7 linked regions of the Homo sapiens genome follow. The protein of the gene in region 7 interacts with the protein of the main gene of each other region in a pairwise test. Each region holds a gene or a part of one and is shown on either strand. Other genes may lie near its edges.

Region 1 (3,500 bases), on a different chromosome or scaffold from region 7:
TCAAGAATGACAGCTTCCTGAGACTACAGTTGATTAAAGTACTTTTTTTTTTTAGACAGGGTCTCACTCTGTCACCCAGGCTGGAGTGCAGTGGCGCAATGTCATCTCACTGCAACCTCTGCCTCCTGGGTTCAAGTGATACTCCTGCCTCAGCCTCCTGAGTAACTGGGATTACAGGCGCATGCCACCACGCCCAGCTAATTTTTGTATTTTTAGTAGAGACGGGGTTTCATCATGTTGGTCAGGCTGGTCTCGAACTCCTGATCTCAGGTGGTCCAACTGCCTCGGCCTCCCAAAGTGCTGGGATTACAGGCGTGAGCCACCGCACCCAGCCTTTAAAAAGTACTTTTTAAAATAGTTTTTTATTATTACTAAATTCCAGATGTTGCATTGCTAAACATCCGCTGTGGGCAGTGGGGAGCCCCCAAAGGCTGCTTCCTGGGGTCAGGGTCAGGGGTGAGCAAGGGACAACTTGGGCTGCCTGTGCCTATTGGTACACATGCCTCAGCAAGTGGTCCTGACACTGGCTTATTTTTATTAGGTGAAAAGTGAAAGGGACCAACATTACACAATTCCACAATACTAAGAAACACGTGACCACAGCCAGTGTCTCCAGGGGGTGGATACACATTGGCTGTGTCCTTCTGAGCGGCTTCCCTCAGCCTGCAGTACTTGGGGCTCATTCGGGTACAGGGCCCCCGCTTGTCCAGCTTACCACACGAATGCTGAAGCACCATCAGGGAGTGCTGCCAGGGAGTTGAGGGCAAATTTGCTTAAAACCAGTTCACCGCTAACAAGAAACTTGTGTGTCTGGTTCCCCAGGAAAGCCTAACCTTTGTGTTTCCATTTCCATGGCATCTGCTCCCCACAATTTAAATAAGGAACAGATAAGACAGGTCATCAGATATTTACATACCCATGAGAGGCATATGAGGTGGGCAGGAAGCCAGGGGCATCACAGCCCAGCATCTGGCCCCGTCGGGAGGATGACCTGGCACTGGGTGTTGGAGACCAACAGGGGGCATATCATGTGGGGGCTGTCAGCAGCAGCAGTCTGCTGGGGGGTGGGGACAAGGAGGGGTCTGCTTGGCTGGGGGATTAAGTATACTTGGGGGTGAAGGAGGTGGGAGATTGATTACACAAGCAAAAGTACTGAGGACAACAGGAGCAGGCTCTCACTGTTGGAGGAAGGAGTCACAAACCTGGGAAGAGAGAAAAATAGTGGGAACCCTGTGGTGAACTAGAATTAAAGATATTGGAGTGGGCCAGGTACAGTGGCTCATGCATGTAATCCCAGCACTTTGGGAGGCCAAGGTGGGAGTATTGCTTGAGCCCAGGAGGTTGAGGCTGCAATGAGCTGTGACTTCACCACTGCATTCCAGCCTGGTGACAGAGTGAGACCCTGTCTCAAAAATAAAAATAAGCTGGGTGCGGTGGATCACATCTCTAATCCCAGCACTTTGGGAGGCTGAGGCGGGCAGGTCACTTGAGGTCAGGAGTTTGAGACGAGTCTGGCCAACATGATGAAACCCTGTCTCTACTAAAAATACAAAATTAGCCAGGCGTGGTGGTGCACACCATAATCCCAGCTACTCAGAGGCTGAGGCAGGAGAAATGCTTGAACCTGGGAGGCTGAGATTGCACCACTGCACTCCAGGCTGGGCAACAGAGTGAGAATAAATAAATAAATAAATAAATAAACAAACAAAAATAAAGATATCATAATGAACTCATGGTTTTTAATATATAAAAACATAGGAAAACAGATGTGAATGTGTGCGCACGTGTGTGTGTGTACACACGCATCTGTAATAACCCACAAATATTCCTTAGCTCTGTGTCCTAAGAGTGTCCAAGAGCAGCAACACCCCAACAGCAATGAGCACATCAAAGGCCAAGATTTACTCTGAAAGGAATCAGGGCTCCTTAGAGAATTGGGTGAAGCAGGCAGAGGCAGAACAGAATATGAGCCTGGTTGGGCACAGTGGCTCACACACATAATCCCAGCATTTTGGGAGGCCAGGAGTTTGAGACCAGCCTGGGCAACATGACAAAACCCTCTCTCTACAAAAAATACAAAAATTAGCTGGGCAACGTGGCTCGTGCCTGTAGTCCCAGCTACTTGGGAGGATGGGGTGTGAGGATCACCCACCCAGGAGGCTGAAGTGAGCCAAGATTATGTCACTGCCCTCCAGCCTGGGTGACAGAGTGAGACCCTGTCTCCAAAAAAAAAAAAAAAAGGCCAGGTGTGATGGCTCACGCCTGTAATCCCAGCACTTTGGGAGGCAGACAGGCAGGCGGATCACCTGAGGTCAGGAGTTCAAGACCAGCCTGGCCAACATGGTGAAACCCCATCTTTAATAAAAAATACAAAAAATTAGCTGGGTGTGGTGGCAGGCGCCTGTAATCCCGGCTACTCAGAGGCTGAGGCAGGAGAATTGCTTGAACCTGGAAGGCGGAGATTGCAGTGAGCCAAGATCGTGCCATTGCACTCCAGCCTGGGCAATAAGAGTGAAACTCCATCTCCAAAAAATAAAAATAAAAATAAATTTACACTGGGGAGGGTTAGGGACATCATGTCCTCATAGCATTTAGGCGAAACTTAAATGTAGATTTAAACTTGAATTTCTCCTTTAGTCACCAGATCTCTTCTGAAGGCTGGGCACCATGCCCACAGCCTTACATATATGAATTCACACAGCCCTCAACAGTCCTCAGTAACCATGAGCTAAGTATTATTATTGCCCCACAAATCAGAGGAGGACCAGGAACAGAGAAAGGTTCAGCCAAGGACCAGGGTCATGCAGCCAGAGGTGGAGGCAGAATTCAGACCCTCTTGCTGTTCTCAACTACTATATATGTCAAGTACACATCAATCTTGCACCAAAACAGTGTTCAGAAAGAAGCACACTTTTGTACAACATATACACACACTTTCCACAAGCCTCAGCAAATATGAAGTGCTATGCTCCAAAGTGACACACAAAATTCAAATAATTGACCTCAAGAGACCAACTCACTCTAAGAAATCAAGTGACACGTTGTGCAGATGACCCTTGGTTTAAATATCTTCATCTTATTTGGTGGCCCCACTTATAAGCTACTTTCAAATTGTTATTAACCTTGACCAAGTGATCAAGGTCAATGGTAGCAGTGACAGGACATATTGACAGCATGTTTTCCCTGACACAATGTGCTGAGGACACACACATTGCCTCTGTGGGACTCTGGCCACAGATGCACAACTTCAGTCCAATCTAGAGGAAACATCAGACAAACCGCACTGAGGGATGTTCTACAAAATGACTGAGCGCTTCTTAAAATGGTCAGCGTCATTCATGGATGACAAGGTCACAGATCACAGGAGACCAAAGAGACATGATGACTAAATACAACGTGGGATTCAGGGCAGAAAAGGGCATTAGGGCAAAAACTGGGGAACTCCAAATGAGGTCTGTAGTTCAGTTAAAGATCATTGTACTCAGCGTAATTTCCTGGTT
Region 2 (3,500 bases), on a different chromosome or scaffold from region 7:
GACCTTAGAAGGAGGCACATGTGAGACGAAGTCTTTAATTCAGGCATGCATTCATTCATTGAGTGCCAAGTGACAGGTATTTTATGGTGATGCCATACTCAGAGCTTGCAGTCTAGCTAGCAATACCAATTTCATTTTACTGAGAGCTTATGATGTGCCCAGCACTGCACTGAATGCTGAATTGAGTCACACACAACCCCCTAAGCAACGGGATGAAGCAGGAGCACGTTTCTCTCCGTGTAACCGGTAAAGATACTGATGCTAAGAGAAGCTAAGGAGCTGGCCCAAGAAACCCAGCCAGCACGTGGCAAGGCCCACGCAGAATCCAGCCCAAGCCCCTGGACCCAGCCACCACTCCGCTGCCTGCACTCAGGTGGGCCTGGCTTATGACAAATATCACCTTTCCCTGTTCCCGCATTAGGACCTCACTGAGACCTTGAAGTCTGAGCTCAGTGGCAAGTTTGAGAGGCTCATTGTGGCCCTTATGTACCCGCCATACAGATACGAAGCCAAGGAGCTGCATGACGCCATGAAGGTAACCAGGCAGACAGGGCAGGGGAGTGGCAGGGGTGCTCACATGACTGGGTAGGGGCAATGCGGGGACCGGGAACCTACAGCCCAGAGCTCCCCTTGAGCCACTGTTTGGAATGGCCATATGGGCCATAACTGGGCCCAGTGAGCAGGCAGCCTGCTGCTCAGACTGCACCCAACACCTGGAGTCACTGGTGCCTGATTGACACGTTGAGTGGCCGTGATGAAGCCAAAATCAGTACTTCTCAGAACCTCACGAGCTCAGGTGTACAGTGGTATTGGAAACCCACCTCTACAGTCCCAGGCACAGCCCCTTGGGTTTCCCTTTACCTCTCACTACTCTTTGCTTTTGCAGATTAATAAGGATGGGGACCCAGTAACTATAGTCATTTTGTTTGGAAAGACACTTGCTGCATGGGCACTGCCAGGCATTTTACACCCACGCTCCCTAATCTATCTTTGGCGCAGGGGAGGCTTCTTATTCCTGTTTATGGATCGGGATGCTTAGGCTCCAGGACATGGAGCAGCCTGTCTGAGACCACCCAGCTAAGGAGGGAGAGCTGAGACAGGGCTTCCCCGTCACAGCACTTGCCCTCAATGTTCATCACTGAAGCATGTGATTTTCTCATCACATCCTCCCACTTCAAGTGGGGCAGGGCAGTGAGGTCCTTCCTGAGGCTCAGGCATCTTGAGAAAAGAAGGTGTGGACAGAGCAGAAGGTCATGGCAGAGCACTCCAGCAGGCAGAGGTTTCTGTCCACAGGGCTTAGGAACCAAGGAGGGTGTCATCATTGAGATCCTGGCCTCTCGGACCAAGAACCAGCTGCGGGAGATAATGAAGGCGTATGAGGAAGGTAAGGGGTGGCACAGATGGAGGGGCTCAGGAGTGGCCACAAGCTTTGGCAGCCTGGCAGGGAACAAGGATCAAGAATTAACCTGGGCCACACTAGAAAGGACCCTTTGGGGACTTTTTTACCCACAGGTGCTGAGCACCTACCGTATGCCAAGATCTGTGCCTGATGGTGACACTGAACATGATTCAGACTTGATCTGTAAGCTCACCAGCTCCTCTTACAGGGGAGAGAGGCCTGTGACCAACTAAAATCTCTGCCCTTGAGGACTGTGGTAGTAGGGGGTGTGGACCCCAGGCTAGCAGAGGCCAGTCAGTCCTCCACATCATGTACCTAGTGGGGAGTTTTCCTGGAGGCTTTGGCTTTGCCAAGCCTTGAGATGAAATGGAGCTTGGTTGGCAGCCCCTAGCCTGGCTCTCTGACCTGGTCCATCTTGTGCTTTGAGCTTGGTTGGGTACGCATGTCGCTTCTAGTTGTGAAGCACCACCCAGGCGACAGCCACTTGGACACCCGGGCATTGCATCCATGCCCTGTGCCAAGGACTTTCTTTCCTAGAAGGCTTTAATAAGGAGAAGTATGGGGAACAGGGCTGGAAGGAGGAAAGCAGGCCCCGGGTAGGCTGTGGGCCTCTGCTTGTGCCTCATGGTCCTGTTTCCCTGCAGACTATGGGTCCAGCCTGGAGGAGGACATCCAAGCAGACACAAGTGGCTACCTGGAGAGGATCCTGGTGTGCCTCCTGCAGGTGTCACAGCCTAGGCTCTTGGGAGTGCCTTGGTTTGGGAGTCCCAACAGCTCCACCCCAGGGAGCAGCCCTTGAATAGCGCCACAAGAGTCAGGGTAGGGGCATGGGATAGCCCAGCAGCCAGGGCTCATTGGGTGTGTCTCAGCATGGTTAGAGGGTCCCAACTGCAGAGCCCCCACACCTGTCCTTACTCAGCCATGTGAGAGCATCCTGGAAGCGGGAGGAGAGCAGGTCCTTCGTGCAGGCCTCATGCCAGGCACTTTGCTTACCTTAGCTCACTGAATCCGCCAAGCCTTATGAGGCAGTCCTTACCACCCCCATTGTACAAATGAGGAAACCAAGGGCTGAAGAGAATAACTGGCTTGTCGAAGTTTCCACAGCCAAAGAGCAGCAGAGCCATGCCTGCCCTCCAAGCCCAGGATCCCCCCTGTGCCCTTAATGCTCTGGTCAGCTGGCCTGCCTTACAGAGCCACCTCCTCTGTTCCTAGGGCAGCAGGGATGATGTGAGCAGCTTTGTGGACCCAGGACTGGCCCTCCAAGACGCACAGGTGAGGCTGCGCCCAGCCGGCCATGTGGCCCCACCCCCTGCCATCTGGACTCCGGCTCCTCTGCCCACGGGGGCTTTCTCTGACACTGGGCTGGGACCCACCCAGCTCAGCTCCCTATAGGCCTTTGTCCTGTGGTGTCTGGGGAGGAGAGTGAGGGTGTTGGGAGACTCGGGAGGAAGGAGTGTGACTTGGGGGTGGGGGAGCACTAAAGCTCTGTCCTGGCAGGAACAGCCCATGAACCCGGGGGCGCTAGGCCCCAGTGCTGGACACAGGTGTCCGGGTCTCTGTAGGTCTGCCTGCTGGCAGAGGGAAGTCTGGGGACCAGGCAGTTCCTAGAGCAGCTTGTGGCCCAGGATAGAGAAAATATTCTAAGCCAGAGCTGCTAGAGAAAGGGGAGCTCCCTGTCAGAGACGACCAAGCAGGGGAGCATGCTGGCCTGGCAGAGTGGACAGGGCCAGGCCATGGCCACAGCTCTGGGACTCTGGGGCTCAGTCCCTCACCTCCCTGGTCTCCCTCACTGGCTTATTGTGGGTGTCCCAATGCTAGGATCTGTATGCGGCAGGCGAGAAGATTCGTGGGACTGATGAGATGAAATTCATCACCATCCTGTGCACGCGCAGTGCCACTCACCTGCTGAGAGGTACCAGGGAGGGAGGGGCTGGGGCCGGGGCCACAGGGGGTGTCCTGGCCATGAGCCTCTCCCTCGTGCTTCTGCCTTGTCAAGTCTAGAGTTAGGGAGAGAGCCAGGGAGCCCAGGACTGTTTCCCCAGCCACCAGTGGGAGGTCAGGGCGGCAAATTGATGTGCGATCTCTGATCCGAGACACTGAG
Region 3 (3,500 bases), on a different chromosome or scaffold from region 7:
CACAAAACTGCCCAGGAGAGGAGGAGGGCTTAGTGAGCCACCTGCAGGGCCATGCCCCAGCTCACATCCTAGGCCAAACCTGGGAGAAGAAAAGGAGCAGCAGGTCAGGGCAGCAGTTGCTGGGCTGTGTGTGGGAGGAAGGAGCCTTAGGTGGATGGAGTGGTGGGAAGCAGGAAGAGAAGGGGTAACACTTTCATCATGGGGAGGGGAGGAGAGGGGAGGGAAACAGACTGGGGTCAGGACTAGAAGCCACCTTCCTCTTCACAGCTACCCAGAGGCCTGGGGCACCCTCTGGCCTTGGAACAGACATTTAGCTGTACCAAAGGGACCTCCGCCTCAACAGAGACCCTGCCCAGGACCGGGGGCCCCTCCAGTACTCCACCTCTCATCCCCAGACCCCCGCAGGGTCTGTCTGACATACTCCCCGGGAAGCCTATAGTCTGGAACAACAGCCAGGTCACAACTGGGTGCTTCTCATCCCCCGACAGCACCCACCTCATGTGGCAGGTGTTCAGCTTAAATAGGCTGAGAACATGATCATAGGCAAGCACATGCCCACAGTGGGGCTGGGAGGCGGGGTCATGGGCATCTGGAACCCTGGAGTGGTAGATGTCACCGAGAGAGGGGAGAGTGGAGGGGAGAGGGGCTCAGGGCTGTTACCTGTATCCTGTCTTCCGGCAGCTCCGTTTTCATGGCCAGCATCTCCCGGGCATAGACGTCTGGGTAGTGGGCTTCGTTGAATGCCTTCTCCAGCTCCTCTAGCTGGTAGGAGGTAAAGATTGTCCTGAGGGGAGCAAGACCGAACACTCAGGACCCCAGAAACTAAAAGAGCCTGTCTCAGACAAGACAGAACCGCCTTCCTCTGTGTCTCCTGGGCAGGCCCCGAACCCAGGCTGGCTCAGCACAATAGGACACAAATTCTCTCTCTCTCTCTCTCTCTGTCTCTCTCTCTCTCTCTCTCTCTCTCACACACACACACACACACACACACACACACACACACTTTCTCTCTCTCTTTCACACACACACACACACACACACACACACACACACACACACACACACACTTTCTCTCTCTCTCTGTCTCATAGTTTAACCCTCCGGACTCTTCTTCCTCAAGGCTGAGGGCTCACACTACCCTTCCTGTGTTTGGGGGGTGGCCATTATTTCAGCCCTCAGTGACATTTCACACTGGGAATCTTTCTGGAGGTGCTCTGGGGGAAAGGCTGTCCCAGAAGAAGGACATTCTAGAAAAGCAGAAAGCCCCTCTTCCTCCCAAGCACAGAGAAGAGGGGCTTACCAGATTACTAAATAGCCCAGCTCCACCCAGACCAGCTTCCTGGGCCCCTCTCACAGTCACTAGAGCTGAATTTTTGAATGCCTTTCAAAGTTAGAAGATTCACCGGAAGGTCAAATGCAGCCTCAACCTCAGTGTTTATACAGCAGAGAACTGAATCTCCCACTCCCTCAACTCCCCCCAGCACCCCTTCCTCCTCCCCTGCCCTTCCTCGACATCACCCAGACCTACCAGCCTCCCAGCACTGCCCCGAGCCTTTTCCAGTCCTATTCTGTGCTGACAAGGGAAGGGCCACCTTCCAACCATCCCATACTTGCAAGCTCAGCCACTCACCTGCAGGGGGTTCCATTCGGGCCACCCTGAGAGCCCACAGGCACAGTTCCCCACCCCCAACAGAGCAGTTCATATGGATCTATTTTGTGTTATAAACTGCTTTAAGAATCTGGTAAAAACTACATTCTCTCACCTTAGGAAAATGGGCAAATAAATAGGCCCCAATTTGTAAAATTTTGCCTCCAACATTAGGGGATTCATAGGTCCTCTTTCTTGAATAAACCGCTAAACACCTACTTCCAGACACAAACTCTTCTCTTTTCAAACCTTAATTTCACCAGGTTTTGGGTGGTCTTTATCCTGAAACCTCATTAACAAGCCAACAGGCAATATAGTCCAGCGTCCACAAACTGAACTGGTAGAAATGGTCCAGCCCTTGCCTGGTCCCCTGGGATCAGACTCTGGCGCCAGCACAGGGGTGTAGAATCCCTTATTGCTGGGCCCTCACCCTCGTCTAACACAACCCAAAAGTACAGATTTGAACCTCACACAATCCTTGTGCTGGTGTCCACTTTAATATCTCGGGGGATAATTCAGGGAAGAAAGATTGTGCTCTTTGCAGAAAATGACTGGTTTGATTCTAAATCGTTTCTCCTATTCTCTGGGGGTGGGGGGTGATGATGTGAAATGCTTATGCACACACGAAGTTAATTCTTGAGAATTTTGAAGATCTGCTGCTTTTTCGCTTCTGCCATCTGCTGAAGGGCCCATGGACAGAGCATCAAAATAAACAATAAAGAAATTCAAGTCCTTTCCAAAACCAGGGAAACTGAGGCACAAAGGCAGTCAAAGAGGAGAGCCGATTATAGGTCATGTAGAACCATTCAAGTCTCAGTCCCTACTTCGGAGAGCCCCTCTTCAAAAAACAAAACAAAAACTCAAATCTCCCAAACTTTCCCTAATTCATGCCTCAGAGCTGACACACTTCCCCCATAATGTGACCCAGCCTGTGTTCCTGGTTTATGCAGAACCCCAGACCCTTCAGGCTCCTGTTGTGTCCAGTCTGAAGAGGAGCTGAGCTTTCCCAGTAGAGAGAAAGAGCAAAATCAGAGAGACTCTCACCGTGGCTGCTTTGTCCCCACGCCACCCCCCAAACGCTTTTAAGTCTGGTTTGTTTCTGGGAGATAAAAATAAGCCCATCTCTCATCACCAGATTCCAGGGTCTCTTACCCCAAATCCCCAAATGACAGAAGCTCGAGTAAAATGTATTTTTTCCTAATTAAAACAAGCACTTGAAATCCGTAGCCATTCTCCTCTCTCCAATAACCTTCTCCCTTCATGCAACAGAAATAGAAACCCCAGGCAGTTAATACCCGAGTGTTGGTGAGTTGCTGTTCTGCCCCCATGAAAACCCACCAAAACCCCCAAAGGTGTTCCTGGCGAAGAGAGTGACAGATGAAAACAGACGGTCACTAAGTGCCATGCAGTGAGATGTCCTGATGCGGAAATGCCATTCCTGTACCCAGGGTTTGGGGATGCTTTTTCCAGGGCTCTCCATGCTGTGGGAACCCCTCCCACCCCTCCTGGCACCAGCACAAGGGCAGTTTTGCCGGTCTCTGACCTGCCCTCCCTGCAAGGTCCCTGTCCCTGCCTGGGGAAGATGACAAGATTACCCACCCTGGGACCCGCGTAAGATGGGTGCATAAAAAGTGTTTTAATGAATATTCGTTGAATGAATTGAATGTAAAAAAAAAAAAAAAAGACCAAAGATCAAGACCAAAAAAATTTTTCTTTTTCCTTTTAAAATAAAACAATACAAACTAAACAAATGCAAACAGCTGCCGGAAAAAGAATAGACCGAGATCCGGAGAAACCAAGTCGAAGTTCACCTGCATTCAAGCCAAAACCTATTAGGGCCTAAGGGGTGAGG
Region 4 (3,500 bases), on a different chromosome or scaffold from region 7:
CCCAGAAAGAACCATCGCAGGTGAGCCCGGGGCCCCCAGCTCCGTGCTCCTGCACCCCAGGGCATGCGTGCCGCTTCTGGGACGGCCTCAAGGATGCCCCATCCAAGGACTGTGTGAGGTTGTCCCCAGCGCTCCCAGGAAGCCCGGCCTCCAAACTCCCCGCCTGCCCCACAGATTCCCCAAGCTTCCTGGGGCTCAGTGCTGGGCGAGGGCAGTCAGTGCAGCTGTGTGTTTGCTGTGTGCCTCTGGGCCTCACCCCAGCCCCTCCTGTCCTTTCCCAGCCTCGCAGTTAAGACCCATCCTCCTGTGTCACCCGCACCAGATGCTGCGTGTGTTGAGAAAGTCCTGCTGCCCCGATCATCTTCCCTCAGTGAACCCAGGATTCTGGGCGGGCCCAGAAGGAAATGCTGAGGGCTCCCCTGCAGCTAGACCTGCTGTTGCGCAGGCCTCAAGGCGACGGGAGGGGCCCGGCTCGGTTGGGAGCCAAGCGGATCTCTGTGTGGCTGGAGAGATTAAAATCAGGGGTGGGGACACGCAGACACATGAGAGAAATCCAGGGGTAATGGGTAAATCACAAAAGAACAAAAGTAAGAACTGCTAAGTGAGTAGCATGTGTTCGTATGATCAGGGCTACTGAGTTTGACCACTTTCTGCCTCTGGATCTTGGTATTGGAGCCGCCAAGGGAAACACAGCACGGTCGAACAATGAATGGAGCAAGGTTTTGCTCACAGACCAGAGACCGGGCCAGAGCACCATCTGCCCATGTGGCTGTCAGGCCGGGGCCAGCAGGTCCCTCCTAGAGGGGTCCTGACCTAACAGTGGGGCTGTCTAGGTGCCACGTGAAGCACACGCCTGAGCAGAACAAAGGGGCACACATTGGGAAACAGAGACCTCCACACGAGGCACTACACCCAGCACAAACTGGGGGGACCCCTTATCTCTTGGTAAGGAGATGTTCTAGGCCCAGGACCCACTCTCAGGCAGCCAAGTAACAGGCTGAAAGACTGCACATGTGTGTCTCCCACTGGCTTAGTCCGTTCTGGGTGCTGTAACAAAATACGGCTGGGTGTGGTGGCTCATCCCGGTAATCCCAGCACTTTGAGTGAGGCCTCACGGGAGGCTGAGGTGGGAGGACCACTTGGTCCCAGGAGTTCAAGAGCAGCCTGGGCAACATGGCAAGACCCCATGTCTTAAAAAAAAATGAGCCAGGTGTAGGGGTGTGCACCTGTAGTCTTAGCAACTCTGGAGGCTGAGGTAGGAGGATCACTTGAGCCCAGGAGTTCAAGGCTGTAGTAAGCTATGATCATGTTTCTACACTCCAGCCTGGATGACAGAGTGAGACCCTAACTCAAAAAACATCAACAGCCGGGCACAGTGGCTCACGCATGTAATCCCAGCACTTTGGGAGGCTGAGGCAGGCGGATCACAAGTTCAGGAGTTCAAGGAAGAAGGAAGTAACTTGTGGAATGCTGAGAAAGGTAAAAACACCTTCAAATAAGGAAGAGGAACAGGCTATGACCTAATGCTTGCTTGGACCAGTATAGGCACACCAGGGCAAATATTTAGGCTAAATTGTGGGAGCTAAGAACATAAAGTACATTGATTTTTTTTATTATGGCTAGCAGATATATAAGAATGTTAGCACAGGTCTTTGAATAAATTTTGCTTCTAAGAGAAGTTACTATTTATTCCTAATTAGATGGGGAGGAAAGTCTTTGAAGAGGAACTTCTACTTTACTTTTTTTTTTTTTTAATGGAGTCTTGCTCTGTAGCCCAGGCTGGAGTGCAGTGGCGCGATCTCGGCTCACTGCAAGCTCTGCCTCCCGGGTTCACGCCATTCTCCTGCCTCAGCCTCCGGAGTAGCTGGGACTACAGGCGCCCGCCACCTCCCCGGCTAATTTTTTTTGTATTTTTAGTAGAGACGGGGTTTCACCGTGTTCACCAGGATGGTCTCGATCTCCTGACCTCGTGATCCACCCGCCTCGGCCTCCTGAAGTGCGTGAGCCATCGCGCCCGGCCCTAAAATAGATTTAAAGATCATCATGAGAGCCCCTCTCCTGCACCAAAACAAAGTTTCGTGGGCCGTGGTTTCTGTTTCTGCATCTAACGGAGGCATCTAACCTGGGTAGACCACAGTTGTTGGCCACGGGCTTCCTCAGCCGCTGCCGGCAGATGTGCTTATCTGACTCCCTCTCCCATCCCAGACGCCACGTGGAAACCACAGCCGCGCTCACAGGCCATCCCCTCACCACACGGCAACTCCAAGGACTCTCTTTTTGCGGGGGTCGTAGGTGGGGAAGGCTGCTGAGGTCCTCCCACCCCTCTCCCACCAGGGCCGCTGTGGCTGAGAGGATCCTCGTTGGCGCTGGTTTAGGCTGTGGGGCTCAGCCACAGCAGGGTGCCCCAACGTCCCTGAGCGAGCTGCACTTGTGGAGGGAGAGGCCTTAGGCCTGAGGCCTGGCGCCCGCGTGGAGAGACGGCAGCTCCGGGATCGGGGCGCTGGTGAGCGCGGCCCCAGGCATTGCCGCTGCCAGGGTGCTAACACTGCCTGAGGCACCTCTGCTTTTGAAGTCGCCGGGGATTAGCGGGAGCGTAGGTGAGGGACAGGTGGAGCTGCTCTGCGCGGGGCAGCCCGGCTCGCCAGGAGGCGCTGTGGAGTGGGCACGACTGGCGATCGCTGAGCGCATACAACCGCCTACCATCGGAAGCCTTTTGAGAAATGCTTCCTTAGGCGGTTTCGTCACCGTGCATACATCGCAGAGGGCACTCACACACCTACACGCACAGCCCATGGCTCCTAGGCTACAGACCTGCACAGCACGGGGCTGCACTGAATACTGTGGGCAACGGTAACACAATGTTGTTTGTGGATTTAAACATAGAAAAGGTACAGTAAAAATACAAAATAGAAGATAAAAAACAGTACACTTGTATAAAGCACTTGCCAGGAAGGGAGCTTGTGAGACTGGAAGTTGCTCTGGGTGAGTCTGAGTGGTGAGTGAATGTGAAGGCCTGGGAGGTTATTGTGCTGTGGACTTCATAAACATGGTGCACTTAGGCTACTAAATTGGCAACTATATTTCCTTCTTCAATATAATTTATCTTACTGTAAGTTTTTGCTTTACATTTTTTTTTTCTTTCTTAGACTGACTCTCACTCTGTCACCCAGGCTGGAGTGCAGTGGCACGATCATGGCTCACCGCAACCTCAACCTTCTGGGCTCATGCGATCTTCCTACCTGAGTCTTCTGAGTAGCTGGGAACACAGGCACACATTACCGCACCGGCTAATTTTTATATGTTTTAAAATTTTTTTAGTTTTTGTGTAGATGGGGTTTCACTATGTTGCCCAGGCTGGTCTCAAACTCCTAGGCTCAAGCGATCCTCCCTCCTCAGCCACCCAAAGTGCTGGAATTACAGGCGTGAGCCACTGTGCCTGGCGTAAAAAACTTTCTGACTCTTGGGGCCGGGCGCGGTGGCTCACGCCTGTAATCCCAGCA
Region 5 (3,419 bases), on a different chromosome or scaffold from region 7:
GAGCCAGTACCAAGAACTAGCAGTAGCCCTGGATTCAAGCTCCGCAATAATCAGTCAACTCACTGAAAACATCAATTCACTGGTAAGAGTCCAGTGGGGTCCCCTGATTACAGCTGGTCAATCCTGGACTCCAGTTTCCTCTTGGGGCCCTGAAGAAAGGGGCTAGGGGCCCCTGATGCCAAGGGCAAATGGGGAGCTGGGCACCCAGGTCTCACCTGGAGGGACCCCAGAGCACAGAACATGCAGCATGGCTCTTCTGCACTGCCCTCTTTGCTGACTCTCTCTTCTCCAGACACCCCTGCTCTAGTCCTTGCCACACATGCCCTGGGGTTGTCACCTCTCTGGGAAGCACTAGCCTGACTGGTTGTCAGAGGTCCATATTCCTGCCCTGCCTCAGTCCCTAATTTGCTTTTTGAGTCTGGACAAGCCATCTCTCCTCTTTATGCTCGTGTTTCTGGAGGAGGTAGAGAGTATCAAAGGTCTCGGTTAGCTCTGAAAGTCAGAGATTTAAAGGCCCCTAGAATGGAAAGCTCAGGGCGAAGGGCTCCTGTCTGTCCTTTGCTGTTTTATATCTCTGCTATGAAGAACTGTACCTGGCCTGTACATGCTCAGTAAATGTTTGTTGAATGAATGCACGTTTCTAAATCACAAACTGGCAGAAGGGGGGTGGGCCTTTCTCAAACTCTGTCTCTGGACGTTCACCAGCCCCTCCCTCCAGTACCCTTTTCCCCCTTTGCTTTGGGCAGGTTCGCACATCTAAGGAGGAGAAGAAGCATGAGATACATCTGGTACAGAAGCTTGGGAGGAGCTTGTTCAAACTCAAAAACCAGACGGGTAAGATGGGGCTGGCATGACCTGGCAGCTGGACTGGCATTAGAGGGCTGTGGGGGTGACTTAGAATGCCCCAGGGAGGTGGGTGGATGGAAGGGCTTTGAGGCAGAGGGAAAGAGGTCTGTGCCAGGGGAGGACAAGTCTTGTCATCTCCATGAGCCTCAGTGTCCCCATCAGTAAAGAGGGAGGAGTGCCCATTGTCAGCCACCCACAGTGCTCTCTATCTGAAAGTGACTTGGAAGATTGTCTACCATCCGGGTGTGAGGAGTCATTAGCAGTGAGGCCAAGTTTGGGAAGCCTGAGAGGAGGAGCTGTGCACCAAAGGGAGGATTTTTTTTTTTTTTTTTTGAGAATCCAGAGGCCCTTATTCTCTGCTTGCTTTCTCAGCTGAACCCCTGGCCCCACAGCCCCCAGCAGGGCCATCTAAGATGGAGCAGCTACAAGATGAGACCAACCACCTAAGGAAGGAGCTAGAGAGTGTGGGAAGACAGCTCCAGGCTGAGGTGGAAAACAATCAGATGTTGAGTCTCCTGAACAGGAGACAGGAGGAGAGGCTACGTGAACAGGAGGAGAGGCTACGTGAACAGGAGGAGAGGCTGTGTGAACAGGAGGAGAGGCTGTGTGAACAGGAGGAGAGGCTACGTGAACAGGAGGAGAGGCTGTGTGAACAGGAGAAGCTGCCAGGGCAGGAGAGGCTGCTGGAAGAGGTGGAGAAGCTGTTAGAACAGGAGAGGCGGCAGGAGGAGCAGGAGAGGCTGCTGGAGAGGGAGAGGCTGCTGGACGAGGTGGAGGAGCTCCTGGAGCAGGAGAGGCTTCGGCAACAGGATGAGAGGCTGTGGCAGCAGGAGACTCTGCGGGAGCTGGAGAGGCTGCGGGAGCTGGAGAGGATGCTGGAGCTGGGGTGGGAAGCCCTGTACGAGCAGCGGGCCGAGCCACGCAGCGGCTTCGAGGAGCTGGTGCGTTGCCCCACCTGGGGAGGCTGCCCTCTTCCCTAGCCCTCAAGGCCTTTGTTTCCCCACCTGTAAAATGGGGCATTGTAGCCTTCACATGAAATGGTACTTCTAAAGGCATCTGTGAGCCAGAGCCCTGCTCTGATGGCTGTGGGAGAGAGGGGATATTTTTCTAACCTGCCTCCACCCTTCCCGGTGCCATGGGAGGCAGACACTAAGTTCTGGGGTCTCCAGTTTTAGTGGGTGGCCACTGATTGCTTCTTTCTGTCCAGAACAACGAGAACAAGAGCACACTGCAGTTGGAGCAGCAAGTAAAGGAGCTGGAGAAGTCGGGTGAGCTGAAAGAGACTGTAACCTCCGACCCATCCAAGAAGATGTGGGAGGCGGGCACCAGCCTCTGGGGAGGGGAGGTGCCAGGCCACAGGCAGCTGCAGCCTGGGGACAGGTGACCCCAGCACCCTCCGGGGCAGTCCTATGACTGTTTCTTGCTTCCTGCCCTCTGACTTTTAGAGGTGGGTAGCCCTGGGGTCCTCCCAGGTCTGGACATCATCATCCCAGCTAGAGGCATGGAGCCCCCCAATCACAGAGGAAGAGACAGTGGTATAAGAGGCTCCTTATGTCGGGTGTGGTGGCTCATGCCTGCAATCCCAGCACTTTGGGAGGCTGAGGCAGGACAATCACTTGAGGTCAGGAGTTTGAGACCAACATGGCCAACATGGTGAAAGCTCATCTCTACTAAAATTAAAAATAATAATAATAATTAGCCAGGCCTGGTGGTGCATGCCTGTAATCCCAGCTACTCAGGAGGCTGAGACACGAGAATCACTTGAGCCCGGGAGATGAAGGTTGCAGTGAGCTGAGATTGCACCACTGCACTGCAGCCTGGGACACAGAGTGACACTCTCTCAAAACAAAACAAAACAGAAAAACAAAAAAGCCTCCTTAGATTCAAACTGGATTCCGGCCTCGGTTCCACTGGTCATAATTCAACTACTTTGCATCTCTAAGTCTCTGTTTCTTTAACTTCAAAAGGAAGTTAGCCTTTTCCTTGCAGAGGTGCTGAGGATTAAATGAGGTAATACGTGGAAACATTAGGCATGTAGCACACTTAGCAGATGGTGGTTGGCTCCGCCTGCTTTTCCACCAGTCTGTGGCCTACAGTTTACATGCTGGGAAAAAGGACGTGAGATTTGATGCTAGGGAAGGAGGCATGGGGTTCTAAGCAAGGGAGACAGTCTCTTAGGCCTGGAGCAAGGGGCCAGGGGCCTGGGCAGGCCACAGAGCCCCACAGTGCCCTCGCTACCCTATTAATGGGCCAGGAATCTGGAAGCCAGCCACCACATGTCCTCATGCCCAGGGTCTTCCGGCAGGTGGAGCTGAAGAGCCAAGAGGCTCCGAGTCTGCAGCAGCAGCCAGACCAGTAGCTGGAGCCCCAGTCCCACAAGGAGCTTGGATGTGCGGACAAGCAGGGTGGTGAGTAGAGCCCTCAGGCGGGGTGGGCAGGCAGGAGCAGGGGAGGCTCGCACTGTGCCCAGATTCCCACCCCCTCCCTCTCTCTGAAGATCTTAGTGAGCTGAGCCTCACTGATAGCATGGAGGCTGCACCGGGAGAGGACAGGGAGGGTTCTCCCCCATGACA
Region 6 (3,500 bases), on a different chromosome or scaffold from region 7:
GCCAGAGGATATAAAGTTCTAAATTTATAGGCACTCAACACTGCAGCACCCAGATATATAAGCAAATATTATTAGATCTAAAAAGAGAGATAGGGCTGGGCATGGTGGCTCATGCCTGTAATCCCAACACTTTGGGAGGCCAAGGCGGGAGGATCACTTGAGGTCAGGAGTTCGAGACCAGCCTTCCCAACATGACGAAACCCTGTCTCTACTAAAAATACAAAAATTAGCTGGGTGTGGCCAGGCGCGGTGGCTCATGCCTGTAATCCCAGCACTTTGGGAGGCTGAGGCAGGCAGATCACGAGGTCAGGAGATTGAGACCATCCTGGCTAACATGGTGAAACCTCGTCTCTACTAAAAATACAAAAAATTAGCCAGGCATGGTGGCAGGCACCTGTAGTCCCACCTACTCGGGAGGCTGAGGCAGGAGAATGGTGTGAACCTGGGAGACGGAGCCTGAAGTGAGCCGGGTTCGCACCACTGCACTCCAGCTTGGGTGACAGAGCAAGACTGTCAAAAAAAAAAAAAGAAAGAAAAAAAAATTAGCTGGGCGTGGTGGCATGCACCTGTAATCCGAGCTACTCAGGAGGCTGAGGCAGGAGAATTGCTTGAACCTGGGAGGCAGAGGTTGCAGTGAGCCAATATTGTGCCACTGCACTCCAGCCTGGGCGACGGAACTAGACTCTGTCTCAAAAAAACAACAACAAAAAAAGGTAGACTCCCATAAAATAATAGTACGGGATTTGAACATCCCACTCTCAGCATTAGACAGTTCATCTAGATAGAAAATCAACAGCTTTGGATTTAAACTGGATATTAGACCAAATGGACCTACCAGACACTAACTGAACATTTTATCCAACAGCTGCAGAATACACATTGTTCCTATCAGCACATGGAACATCCTCCAGGAAGAGACCATACGTTAGGCCATAAGACAAGTTATAACTAATTTTTAAAAATTGAAATCATATCAAGTATCTTCTCAGACTACACTAGAATAAAACTAGAAATCAATAACAAAAACTTTGTAAACCACACAAATAAATGGAAATTTAAACAATGTGCTTGCTCATGAATGCCCATTGGGTCAATTAAGAAATTAAAGATCATCAAAGACTACTACAGGCAACTATATGCTAACAAATCAGATAACCTAGAGGAAACAGAAAAATTCCTGGATACATGAAAACCTACCAAGACTGAACCAGGAAGAAACAGAGCAGAAGAACCTGAGCAGACCAATAACGAGTAATGAGATTGAAGCAATAGTAAAATGTCTCCCAACAAAAAAAGCCCAAGACTAAAGGGCTTTACTGCTGAATCCTACCAAAATTACAAATAACTAACCTCAGTTTTTCTCAAACTATTCCAAAAAATGGAAGAGAAGTTAATTCTTCCTAATCCATTCTACAAGGCCAGCATTACCCTGATACCAAAACCAGAGAAGGACACAACAACAACAACAAAAAGAGGTGATATCCCTCATGAACATAGACACAAAACCCCTCAATGAAATACTAGCAAATGAAATCCAATAATACAACAACAAGATAATATACAACGATTAAGTGAGATTTTTCCTGAAAAGTGCAAGGATGGCTCAACATAAGCAAATCAATAAACATGATGTATCAGATCAACAGGATGAGGGATAAAAACCATATGATCAGCTCAATAGATGCAGAGAAACATCTGATAAACTTCAACGTCTCTTCATTATAAAAACCTCTCAACGATTAGGCATTAAAAAACATAACATAATAAAGACCATATATGACAAACGTACAGCTAACACCATACTGAATGGGGAAAAGCCGAAAGCTTTTCCTCTAAGAACTGGAACAAGATAAAGAAGCCCACATTCACCACTATTATTCAATATAGTACTGGAAGTCCTATCCAGAGCAATCAGGCAAGAGAAAGAAATAAAAGGCATCCAGATTGGATAATAGAAAGTCACACTGTCCCTTTACAGATGACATGATCTTACATATATTTAAAAACCTAAAGATGCCACCAGAAATTCTTGGAACTGATCAATGAAATCAGTAAAGTTGCAAGATACAAAATCAATATACAAAAATAAGTAGTACGCTGGGCACGGTGGCTCACGCCTATAATCCCAGCAGTTTGGAAGGCCGAGGTGGGTGGATCACTTGAGGTCACGAGTTTGAGACCAGCCTGGCCAACATGGTGAAACCTTGTCTTGACTAAAAATACAAAAATTGGCCAGGTGTGGTGGCAGGCACCTGTGGTCCCACCTACGTGGGAGGCTGAGGCAGAACTGCTTGAACCCAGGAGGTGGAAGCTGCAGAGAGCTGAGATCATGCCATTGCACTCCTCCAGCCTGGGAGACAGAGCAAAACTCTGTCTCAAAAAGGGAAAAAAAAAGGATTTCTATACATCCACAATAATGAATTAGCTGAAAAAGAAATCAAGAAAACAATCCCATTTATTAATATAATAGCTACAAAAAACAACCTAGAAATAAATTTAACCATGAAGTGAAAGACCTCTGTAAGGAAAACTACAAAACACAGACAAAAGAAATTGAAGACAACAAACAAATAAAAAGATATTTGCATGCTTATGCACTGGAAGAACTATTGTTAAAATGAACATACTTCCCAAAGCAATCTACAGATTCAATGCAATCTACAGATTCAATGCAATCCCGACTGAAATGCCAGTCAGTTTTTACATGAACAGGAAAAAAAATCCTAAAATTTGTAGGAAACCATAAAAAATGCCAAATAGCCAATGCAATCTGTAGCGAAAGAACAAAAGTGGAAGAATCAAACTTCAAAATATACTACAAAGCTGTCGTAACCAAAACAGCATGGTACTGTCATAAAAATAGACCCAAAGACCAATGGAACAGAAGAGAGAACCCACAAATAAATCCATGTATTTATAGTCAACTGATGGTTGACAAAGGTGCCAAGAACAGACATAGGGAAAAGGACACGCTGTTCAATAAATGGTGCTGGGAAAACTGGTTATCCATATAGTGAAGAATGAAACTAGACTGTATCTCTCACCATATACAAAAATAAACTCAAAATGAATTAAATACTTAACTATAAGACCCCAAATTATAAAACTACTGCAGGAAAACATAGGGGAAACACTTCAGAAGAATAGGCAAATATATTTTAGATAAGACCTCAAAGATATTTTCAATAAGGGGCAACAACAAAAAAATAGACAAATTGGACTATATTGAACTAAAATGCTTCTGCACAGCAAAGGAAACAATCAGCAGAGTGAAGAGACCTGTAGAATGGGAGAAAATATTTGCAAACTCTTCACCTGAGAAGGGACTAATATCCAGAATTAACAAGGAAGCAAAAAAACTTAATAGCAGTGCCATAGCGGCTCATAACTGTAATCCCAGCACATTGGGAGGCCAAGTCAGGAGGATCACTTGAGGCCAGGAGTTCAAGACCAGCCTGGGGAACATAGGGAGACCCCCCCCGATCTCTATAAACAGTTTT
Region 7 (3,500 bases):
TCTTCTACACCTGCCCTTGTTTGGTAATGGAATGGATTCTTCGCTTACAAGATATATTACACATTTAACCACAAATATCTATGAATGAGCCTACCGTATATTTTAAAATAAGTGTTGGTTATATTTTATGTTAGAAGAATCAGTATCAAAAAGAAATACTGTCATATATTATAGAAAGTAAGTTTTATTGGATATGTTTTTCAGATCTCAAGATTTAACATGGTGTTTGATACTAGTAAGTCAATAAAAGCAAAAACAAAATTAACTTCCTTTGGTTTGATATAGCAGAAAAGTACAAGCAAAAATTAGGAATTCCAAGCACAAGAAAGCATACAAGTCTTGTGAATTGTATCTTCCTTTTTCAGTTGATTAATCTCCACTGTCTTGCTGGTTAAAGTGGAAGTGAGGCTGGTGGGAAGGCTGAAAATATAATGGGATACTTTTACATTATTTAAAAATGGGCCAGGTGCCATAGCTCACGCCTGTAAACTCAGAACGCTGGGAGGTCGAGGCAGGTGGAACACTTGAGGCCAGGAGTTTAAAACTAGCCTGGACAACGTGGTGAAACCCTGTCTCTACTAAAAATACAAAAATTAGGTGGGTGTGGTGGTGCATGCCTGTAATCCCAGGTACTCAGTAGGCTGAAGTACAAGAATCGCTTGAACCCCGGAGGCAGAGGCTGCAGTGAGCGGAGATCGTGCCACTGCACTCCAGCCTGGGGGACAGAGGGAGACTCTCACTCCAAAAAAAAAAAAAAAAAAAAAAAAAAACGCTACAGAGGTTAGGAGAGCTAAGAAGCTGAAATTATCTTCAATCTCATGTATGTCTGTCTCACTCGTACACATTATCAGTTTGATCTTAACACTGTGGAAGAACTGGAAGGCTCTCATTTAACTGAAGGGTTAAGCAAACATTTTCTGTAAAGGGTGACATAGTAAGTATTTTAGGTTTTGTGGGTCAAGAGGCAAAATTCAGGATATTAAGTAGGTACTTACATGTCTACTAATGAGGAAAATAAAATTCTCTTTTGGGGATCACATTTCACTTAATTGGAGTTCAAAGTTAATGTTCTCTATCAAAATCAATGACAAATGTTCATGTGTCAATGATGTTGTGTTAACAAGATTTTATGTATTTCACTTTCTTTTCGCATAGACAAGTAATGCCAAATACCGATATTAATCCACAAGTGTATGATTTTAATTGAGCATATTTATTGCTTGGAAGGCATTCATAGAATTGTATTACATTCTTCTCCTGATAATGGCCTTTTAACATACTGTTACACTGCAGATTAGTCACTACCAACTGAAGGTTAGATGGAACCCCCTTAACTGTACAGTGAAAACAAATTTTGAAATATGAAAATTTCCTTTGCATTTGCATTCAAGTCTGAAAAACACTGCTGAAAATATAGCTTGAGCCTGGAAAATATATCTGCTGCAAATCTATGTGGTAATGAACATCCTATTTTAACTTCTGACACCACTGGAAGTATATAAAGTATATAAAAGCAATTTGACATTACTTATGATTCAAATGTTAACTTGTGAAATTGACTTTACTGCACTTTATGTTTCACAGAAAAGCAGTATTTTGCCTTGTAACTCTATGATGAATTCATTAAGACATATTAGCAAGTTTGCAGCAAAAGCTAATTTTCAAAACCATCCAGTGTTCAACAGCAGTAGCCGAAGGCAGTACTGATTCAGAAAAATCTTACTCTTGGCCCCGAGTTCAGAAAAATCACAACAAAACTTTGCTACTGCTAAGTCACCAGATTAGTGTGTCATTAAGACAAGTCACCCTAACAGTATTTTGTTAGAAATATTCAGCTTCTATTTCTAACAAAATGTCACAAAACTGGCTGAGCATGATAGCTCACACCTATAATCCCAGCACTTTGGGAGATCAAGGCAAAAAGATCACTTGAGGCCAGGGTTCAAGACTAGTCTGGGCAACGCTGTGAGACCCTATCTGTACCAAAAAAAAAAAATTAGCCAGGGTCCTGCTTGAGCCCAGGAGTTGAGGCTGAAGTGAGTCATGATCGCACCACTGCACTCCAGCCTGAGAAACAGAGTGAGACTCTGTCTCAAAAAAAAAGTCACAGAACTGATATTGATAGTTACGTGCACAAGAGTGAATGAAGTTCATTGTTCACAATTACTGGTTAAATAACACAAGGTAGATTAAAGTCTTCTCTAACAAAGTACTGCTGATGAATAATGTAATAGGCTTTTTAAACACCTTACGTTTTCAATCTTGGCAAATCTGTTCCACTAAGTCTTCTGCTCCACATATTTTTACCCTTATCAGTTATAATAAATCTTAGCAGATTCCACCTCAGGTTATACTGAATTAACACTTTTGCAACTGCTTTGAAGCTATTTTCTCCTATAGCTGTTCCATGTAGACTACTCACTGGAGCTAGTTCTTCTGTCAAGCTCAGCACTGACTTTTTTTTTTTTTTTTTTTTTTGAGACAGAGTCTCACTCTGTCACTTAGGCTGGAGTGCAGTGGTGCAATCTCGGCTCACTGCAAACTCCGCCTCCCAGGTTCAAACAATTCTCTGCCTCAGCCTCCCGAGTAAGCTGGGATTACAGATGCCCACCACCACGCCCGGCTAATTTTTGTATTTTTAGTAGAGATGGAGTTTCACCATCTTGGCCAGGCTGGTTTTGAACTCCTGAACTCATGATCCATCCGCCTCAGCCTCCGAAAGTGCTGGGATTACAGGCGTAAGCCGCTGCACCTCGCCCAACACTGACTTCTTGAATAAACAACTGCAAAGCAGCAATAACATTGATCTAGTCATCAAGAGCCAAGGAAAAATATACCTGAGCTAATTTGCCTTAACTTTTAATTGACTACTGATGTTGCTCCACTGTCCTCAACTCTTCAAGCAACTGTTCTTGGTGAGATGCTAACAGTCTTAAATAAATTTATTTTCTCTGCATACATTTCTTCAGCTGTTGCAATCAAATATGAATTAACCTATCATTGGTAAATGGCTTTCCTTGCTTGGCCAAGAAATAAGCCACTTAGAAACTTTAGTTGCAGCCTCAGTTTCATTCTTTTATTTTTGTGAAAAAATTCTGTTGTGTTAAGATATTCTATTTTACATTATTTTCTGACCATTGTTTTCCTGAGTTAGAAATATTCTGATGAGTGCTCAGTATGGTAATGTCCACGCTTACTGTATTCTTTTAACACAGCTACAGTATCATTGTGTAATAAACACAATGTTTTGCCATCTAATTCAGTGACAAAATAATCCATACTCCACCATGCCTTAAAAGCATGACATTCAAAGTTAACTTTTCTTGTTTTGGTGTGATGGATATGTAATGGTAATAAAAACAAATAAATAAAATAGTGCAGTATGGCAACATATGTGGCGATCAACATGTTGCTGTTATAACTGCATCACTGCAATTAGTATGCTGAGCAGCAGAAAAAAAGTGATGAGAGCTGCACATGTGGTTTCTGTTGAAGCTACT

Evidence for each region.
Region 1: the proteins of GTF2B (region 7) and PBX4 interact in binary tests that used the Homo sapiens proteins (3 or more experiments, as listed by UniProt).
Region 2: the proteins of GTF2B (region 7) and ANXA8 interact in binary tests that used the Homo sapiens proteins (3 or more experiments, as listed by UniProt).
Region 3: the proteins of GTF2B (region 7) and VSX2 interact in binary tests that used the Homo sapiens proteins (3 or more experiments, as listed by UniProt).
Region 4: the proteins of GTF2B (region 7) and ZSCAN1 interact in binary tests that used the Homo sapiens proteins (3 or more experiments, as listed by UniProt).
Region 5: the proteins of GTF2B (region 7) and GOLGA6L9 interact in binary tests that used the Homo sapiens proteins (3 or more experiments, as listed by UniProt).
Region 6: the proteins of GTF2B (region 7) and ZNF829 interact in binary tests that used the Homo sapiens proteins (3 or more experiments, as listed by UniProt).

What each region holds. Positions count from the first base shown.
Region 1 is NC_000019.10:19,594,688-19,598,187, forward strand, and holds part of PBX4 (pre-B-cell leukemia transcription factor 4), read right to left. Parts: intron 1-3,500.
Region 2 is NC_000010.11:47,474,116-47,477,615, reverse strand, and holds part of ANXA8 (annexin A8), read left to right. Parts: exon of another isoform or gene 1-373; intron 374-421; coding exon 422-535; exon of another isoform or gene 536-536; intron 537-1,293; coding exon 1,294-1,384; intron 1,385-1,512; coding exon of another isoform or gene 1,513-1,550; exon of another isoform or gene 1,551-2,025; intron 2,026-2,043; coding exon 2,044-2,123; intron 2,124-2,611; coding exon 2,612-2,671; intron 2,672-3,217; coding exon 3,218-3,311; intron 3,312-3,500. UniProt on the Homo sapiens protein: This protein is an anticoagulant protein that acts as an indirect inhibitor of the thromboplastin-specific complex, which is involved in the blood coagulation cascade.
Region 3 is NC_000014.9:74,242,449-74,245,948, reverse strand, and holds part of VSX2 (visual system homeobox 2), read right to left. Parts: intron 785-3,500; coding exon 661-784; intron 1-660.
Region 4 is NC_000019.10:58,040,525-58,044,024, forward strand, and holds part of ZSCAN1 (zinc finger and SCAN domain-containing protein 1), read left to right. Parts: coding exon 1-20; intron 21-3,500. UniProt on the Homo sapiens protein: May be involved in transcriptional regulation.
Region 5 is NC_000015.10:82,432,816-82,436,234, forward strand, and holds part of GOLGA6L9 (golgin subfamily A member 6-like protein 9), read left to right. Parts: exon of another isoform or gene 1-1; coding exon 2-82; intron 83-746; coding exon 747-834; intron 835-1,218; coding exon 1,219-1,787; intron 1,788-2,053; coding exon 2,054-2,114; intron 2,115-3,151; coding exon 3,152-3,254; intron 3,255-3,419.
Region 6 is NC_000019.10:36,895,792-36,899,291, forward strand, and holds part of ZNF829 (zinc finger protein 829), read right to left. Parts: intron 1-3,500. UniProt on the Homo sapiens protein: May be involved in transcriptional regulation.
Region 7 is NC_000001.11:88,881,568-88,885,067, forward strand, and holds part of GTF2B (transcription initiation factor IIB), read right to left. Parts: intron 1-3,500. UniProt on the Homo sapiens protein: General transcription factor that plays a role in transcription initiation by RNA polymerase II (Pol II). Involved in the pre-initiation complex (PIC) formation and Pol II recruitment at promoter DNA.